Homo sapiens: one gene and its partner. The protein of the gene in region 1 purifies or fractionates together with the protein of each later gene. This does not show direct contact. Each region holds a gene or a part of one and is shown on either strand. Other genes may lie near its edges.

Region 1 (3,500 bases):
GTGAATCAAGAGGCTCTATGCTTGGTGTACAAATATAATGTAGGACTAACCACAGGCTTTATTCATACCTATTTTCTTTCCCATAATGACCCATCTGTGGTGAAATTCCAGTAAAATTAAACTTCAACAGCTCTAAATGATAAAATCAGTTACTTTCAAGTTGAGCAATTATAACGACAAAATAATCCAAGCCTTACCAGCATGACTCCTGGTGGCAGCTGGCTTACAGCAGGCAAGCATTTCAATCCTTCTGACCCCTTCATTTGTGTGTAACAGTGAATTAGATCTTTGTTTCTTGGCCCACATTCTCAGGTGGACCGTCCCCAGGGTCTGGGTGGCTGTGTGACCAGGAGGGTGCTTGGGGGAGCACTGAGGGCTGTGCAGTACCCATTTCCCTTGGAAATGTTAGAAACACTCTGGGTGGCCCATAAAATGCTACCCTACATAATGGGCCTCTTTGGCTGCCTTCTTCACTTCCTCCCTCCAGATCATCACCACTTTGGCAGGGAGGCAGAAATGCGAGAGCTTATCCAGACATTTAAAGGCCACATGGAGAATTCCAGTGCCTGGGTAGTAGAAATCCAGATGTTGAAGTGCAGAGTGGACAATGTCAATTCGCAGCTCCAGGTGCTCGGTGATCATCTGGGAAACACCAATGCTGACATCCAGATGGTAAAAGGAGTTCTAAAGGATGCCACTACATTGAGTTTGCAGACACAGATGTTAAGGAGTTCCCTGGAGGGAACCAATGCTGAGATCCAGAGGCTCAAGGAAGACCTTGAAAAGGCAGATGCTTTAACTTTCCAGACGCTGAATTTCTTAAAAAGCAGTTTAGAAAACACCAGCATTGAGCTCCACGTGCTAAGCAGAGGCTTAGAAAATGCAAACTCTGAAATTCAGATGTTGAATGCCAGTTTGGAAACGGCAAATACCCAGGCTCAGTTAGCCAATAGCAGTTTAAAGAACGCTAATGCTGAGATCTATGTTTTGAGAGGCCATCTAGATAGTGTCAATGACTTGAGGACCCAGAACCAGGTTTTAAGAAATAGTTTGGAAGGAGCCAATGCTGAGATCCAGGGACTAAAGGAAAATTTGCAGAACACAAATGCTTTAAACTCCCAGACCCAGGCCTTTATAAAAAGCAGTTTTGACAACACTAGTGCTGAGATCCAGTTCTTAAGAGGTCATTTGGAAAGAGCTGGTGATGAAATTCACGTGTTAAAAAGGGATTTGAAAATGGTCACAGCCCAGACCCAAAAAGCAAATGGCCGTCTGGACCAGACAGATACTCAGATTCAGGTATTCAAGTCAGAGATGGAAAATGTGAATACCTTAAATGCCCAGATTCAGGTCTTAAATGGTCATATGAAAAATGCCAGCAGAGAGATACAGACCCTAAAACAAGGAATGAAGAATGCTTCAGCCTTAACTTCCCAGACCCAGATGTTAGACAGCAATCTGCAGAAGGCCAGTGCCGAGATCCAGAGGTTAAGAGGGGATCTAGAGAACACCAAAGCTCTAACCATGGAAATCCAGCAGGAGCAGAGTCGCCTGAAGACCCTCCATGTGGTCATTACTTCACAGGAACAGCTACAAAGAACCCAAAGTAAGTGGGAGAGGGGAGTCGCGTTTGGGGAGGGCACAGTCTCTTGAGAGGGTAGAGTCTTCCATCTCATCAGCCTCTTTTTTACTGCAACATGCATCTCCTTGACCAAATCCAGGGAAATGGGCCCAAGGAAACTGGGCAGTTGTAGAGATGGTGTGAGGTGGGAAGTTCCTGCTCTCAAGTTGCTTATAACCTGGTCACGGTGACCAAATGAACACGGGAAACCAACTGTAAATGGTGCACGTGTGTGATAAGGACGGCATGGGCTAGTGGGCCACACAGCCTTATTTCTGACTTCCTGATACCCCAAATGGTATGACCTTGAGCCTGTTACTTACCTTCTCTGAGCTACACTTTTCTCATCTGCAAGGGGGAGACAATAATATTTGCATCACAGTGAGGATCCAATGAGTTCACACATGTAAGGCCTTTAACAAAGTACCTAGCATTCATGCCCTCACCCGATGCTTTATTGAGGCCCAGTGGTGTGCTGGGTAAAAAGGTGAATAAGGTGTGATAGGTACCCTTGAGAAGCTTACAGGCTAGTAGTACAGACTTGCATGAAAGACATACAGACAGGTATAAGGCTGATAGGTTAGAAGCAGGTACTGAGAACTGGGGTTGGGGGCAGAACAAAAAGAAGGGAAAAGGAATCTTCTAGGGGGAGGGAAGAGATCTGTGGGGAAAAGATCAAAAGATGCTTTGTGAGAAGATGGCTCTTGAACTTCATCCTGAAGGATGAGTAGGTGTTTGCCAAGCAAATAGGGTTTGCAGGCATGGAGACACAAAATCATGAGATTCTGGAAACTTCAGGCAGTTCTCTTTGACTGGCCTGTGGACAAGAGGGCAGCTGAGAGACAGAAGGGAGTGTTTGGGGCAGCCACTGAAGAAATGGGGGCTAACAAATGAGGGCTTGGTGGGCAGCAGTGACGTTCCACTTTACTGCTTTGCCCGGTTCCTGGTCTGGGGTCAGAGGCCCCACTTCTTCACACATCTCCTAGTGCCCCAATGTCCTTATTCCTCCCAGCTCTCACTGCTGCTTTAGCTGGGCCCAGTGTTTCTCCACTTTGGGGGCACACTGGAATCGCCCAAGGAGCTTTGAAAATACTGATGCCTGGGGACCCACCTCCAGAACTGTGATTTTTTTTTTTTTTTGGTGAGGGTGTCTGGCATCAGTATTCTTTTTTAAATGCCTAGGTGGATCTACTGGCATCTGGGCTGAGAACTATTAGCTTAATTTTTTTTCTTAAAGGACAAAGAACTAGATATCTTAGGCTTTGGGGCTGTACGATCTCTGTTACAACTACTCAACTCTGTTCGTAATTATAAAGCAAAAGAAAAAGACAGTAAACTAATGAGCATGGCTACGCTCATAATAAAATAAATTTTATTAAAAAGACACTGCTGACAGGCTAGAGTTTGCCAATGGTTGGTTTAGATGACTAGTTCTGGGCATCAGAACCCCCAGAGGGCTTGCTGAAGCAGATTGTTAAAACATAATTTTGGATTCAGTAGGGCTATGGTGGTCCTGAAAATTTGCATTTCTACCACGTTGTCAGGTGATGCTGATGGTCTGGGACCACACTTTTCGAACCCCTGATTTATACCCATCTCTTACTGGGACTTTCGCCATTGTGTTATCATTGGTGTTTCTGTCCTCATTAGGAGTACCTTCTTCTGGTTCAGCTTCCACCAGGTTGACGTTTTTCCAGTGCAAATCTGGACATATTACCATCCTTCTCAAAACCTTGCAGTGCTTCCCATTGCTCATAGGGAAAAAAAAATCCAAACTGTTTCACATGGGATGTACCATTTAGTGCTGGTGAACCTGTCCAAATTCATCACTCACCCATCCTTTATGTCCCAAGAATACCAAGTAGCTTGAATAGATCAG
Region 2 (3,500 bases), on another chromosome or scaffold:
CCTCATTCATGGCTTTAGACTGGATGCACATGCGGTACTGCTCGGGGGTCAGCTCATCAGCACAGCGCTTTTCATGCCAGAGGTGGAAAAGACCAGGAACCGGAGTCCGAATCACAATGAGGTCACCATGTAAGTATTTTCGATAAAGATGAACATCTTCTCCACCCCAACCTTTCACTTCCATGTCAAATCCACCTGTAAGATCAAAATTGACACTATAAATAACTGCCTATTATTAGCCAGAGCACAGGGATATATATAAAATTTTAAATGTTCTGCTTCAAAAGGGATGGGATGGTTCAGCAAAAAGGTAGCACGAGACACCTGGCATGGAGGAGTGACTCCCAGTCACCGGAAGTCCAGTTTTGAGCTGACACTTGGACTCAAGGAGCTCAAGGTTGGTTGTTGACAGTATCAAAATGGGGTTAAATATTTAAGAACACTTTGTAAATTTCAAAGTCCTGTAGAAAATCTACAAAAAGTCAAATAAAGGAGAAGAAAATACAAGTCACCTATAATCTCACCACCATTAACTTTTTATGTTTTCTTTTTTTTTTTGTTTTTTTTTTTGAGACAGGGTCTCACTCTGTCACCCAGGCTGGAGTGCAGTGGTGTGATCATGGCTCACTGCAGCATCGACCTCCGTGGCTCAGGCGATCCTCCCATCTCAGCCCCGAGTAGCTGGGACCACAGGCGCATGTCACCATACTCAGCTTTTTTTTTTTTTTTGGTGGAGATGGGGTATCACCATGTTGCCCAGGCTGGTCTCGAACTTTGGGTTCAAGTGTTCCGCCCACTTGGCTTCCCAAAGTGCTGGATTGCAGGCATTAGCCACTGCGACCAGCCACATTTTCTGTCCTTTGAGACACACGCTTTTCTGGGCTATAGAAAAACTCCCCAGAGTGGAAAAAGAAGAAAGGGCCAAGCTGGAGATATAAATTTGAGAATGGGTCCATAGATTATTTAAAGCTACAGGAATGAATGAAATTACTGAAGGAATTTGGAAGGAAAACAGGGCCTAGGTCTAAACACTAAGAAATGCCAATTTCTAGAGGTTAAATAGAGGTAAAGAAAGTTAAGTCAGGAAATGAGATTGAGAAGTGGCCCCAGGTGAGGGAGAAAATTCTGGAAAAGGTGCCATTGTAGTAGCCACGTGAAGAAAGTGTCTTGAGGAAGAAGTTGTCAAGTGTGTGCTATTCAGTGAAGAATTTAAGAAGAACTGACTGGACCTGGCAGCATAAATGTTACTTATAAACTTCCCCAGAACAATTCTGATAGAGTGATGGGGCAGAAGGCTAACTGGAGTGGGCTGCTGCAGGAAGTCAGGGACCCCGAATGGAGGGACTGGCTGAAGCCATGGCAGAAGAACATAAATTGTGAAGATTTCATGGACATTTATTAGTTCCCCAAATTAATACTTTTATAATTTCTTACTCCTGTCTTTACTGCAATCTCTGAACATAAATTGTGAAGATTTCATGGACATTTATCACTTCCCCAATCAATACCCTTGTGATTGCCTGTCTTTACTTTAATCTCTTAATCCCGTCATCTTCGTAAGCTTGAACTCCTGACCTCAGATGATCCACTCACTTCGGCCTCCCAAAGTGCTGGGATTACAGGCGTGAGCCACCGTGCCTGGCCTGTCAAATAATTTTTATTTTTCAGAGATGTGTTCTCACTCTGTTGCCCAGGCTGGAGTGCAGAGGTGCAATCATAGCTCACTGCAGCCTCCATCTCCTGGGCTCAAGTGATCCTTCTGCCTTAGCCTCCTTAGTAAGTGGGACCACAAGTTCGAGCCACCATGCCCGGCTCCTGTCAAATAATTCTATCCCACTTAATTTCACATTAACAGGATGGACAATAATCTGGGGATCTCTGAAAAGTATTAAACAATCAGAGCTTTACTAAATGCTATGTCTGATACATATCAGCTTTTCTTCCTTGTAGATATAAGCTCTTAGAATATTAGAGATGGTACATATACTTAAAACAAATGGGGCATTCTCAGTTTCTGGTCTGGCATGCCTGGAGCTAGAAGTCATCACTCCATCCTAACAAGTCAAAAGCTGAACACTGAAAAAGCAACAACTCCTCTTAGGTCTCTCACAGAGAAGTGAGGTCACAGGGTAAACCACTGCCCTCAAAACTGGTGAGACAGATAGGCAGATACAAAGAATTCCAACTTACTGGAGCAGAAATCTCTGTGGGGACCAGTACCCAGGTAGGAAAACCCTAACTGTAATCGACAAATTGCTGGAGGCTCAGGGGAGGTAAGTCTGAGTGTTAAAAACTCCAGGGGGACCTGGTCATATTGGGACCCCCATACTCATGTGAGTTTTACCTCTAGGAGCTCTATTAGGTCCTCAGTGGTGAAGATCAGAGAAAAATCTCTTAATGCGTCCAGCAGTGGGGAAGGGGAAAAGGTAATCATTTTAAAGTATGCCACAGCATGTTGTCATTATTAACAAAGCCTGTCCTTAGGAGAAGTTATTTAACCAGAGCCTAACCTGCTGGGGTTTTATCAGTGCCTAACTGACTTGGAGGAAGAAATCTACCCAACTAGAGCCCCTTCTAGTCATCCTGTCCAGGAGAGGAGGGGAGACTGAGAAGCATGTGTGAAATTCAGAGTCTGGGATACAGGATCACTAAGAGATTGAGACTTACTTATGGGACTACAGAACACTTCCGCTCCCTCCACACTTCACCACCACATCATCAAAGGCCTATTTATTGCAGTTCCTTTTACGCAGTATATCAAGTCCAACTTTCAACAGAAAACATGACAAGGTATACTAAAAGTTAAGAAAAACACAGTATGAACAGACAGAGCATGTACCAGATCCAGATTCAGATACAGCAGGGATGTTGGAATTATCAGGCTGGGAATTTAAAACAACTATGTATAATACTCTAAGGGCTCTAATGGAAAGAGCAGATAACACACAAGATGCGGAACATAAGCAGTGAGATGGATCTAAGGAATTTAAAAAAATGCTAGAGATCAAAAACACTGCGAAATAAATGAATGCCTTAGATGGGTTCATTAGTAGACCGGACTTAGCTTAAGAAACAATCTCTGAGCTTGAGGATATGACAATAAAAATTTCCAAAACAGAAAATCAAAGAAAAAAAAAGACTGAAAATAAAATGAACAAAATATCTAAGAACGGTGGGACAACTACAAAAGATGTAACATATGTATAATGGGAATACCAGGAAGAAAGGAAACAAGGGAACAGAAGCTCCAAATAAAGAGTCTAAGTTCTAAACAGGTGCAGCTCTTTTTCACCCAGCCCACAGCAACAGGGTGGAGGCTCCACTTCCAGGTGTGGCCAGCTGAGAATACTGGGGGTCCTCCTGCCCCTACCCAGTGTCCTGCTCATAGGGCAGAGGTGGTCACTCTGCTTAATAAGTGTGTCACTGTCCCCATCCTCAGGGCAAAACCTCATGGATTTTTTCCCCCGGGGGAGAGGAAGTCCATAAGAACAAAGTGCTCC

The links. Proteins that work in one complex are often made in the same cells at the same time.
Region 2: the proteins of CLEC4F (region 1) and CSGALNACT2 purify together in Homo sapiens (affinity purification with mass spectrometry; one large-scale study listed by BioGRID and IntAct). This does not show direct contact.

What each region holds. Positions count from the first base shown.
Region 1 is NC_000002.12:70,814,100-70,817,599, reverse strand, and holds part of CLEC4F (C-type lectin domain family 4 member F), read left to right. Parts: intron 1-111; exon of another isoform or gene 112-402; coding exon of another isoform or gene 403-487; coding exon 488-1,606; intron 1,607-3,500. UniProt on the Homo sapiens protein: Receptor with an affinity for galactose and fucose. Could be involved in endocytosis.
Region 2 is NC_000010.11:43,179,945-43,183,444, reverse strand, and holds part of CSGALNACT2 (chondroitin sulfate N-acetylgalactosaminyltransferase 2), read right to left. Parts: intron 196-3,500; coding exon 1-195. UniProt on the Homo sapiens protein: Transfers 1,4-N-acetylgalactosamine (GalNAc) from UDP-GalNAc to the non-reducing end of glucuronic acid (GlcUA). Required for addition of the first GalNAc to the core tetrasaccharide linker and for elongation of chondroitin chains.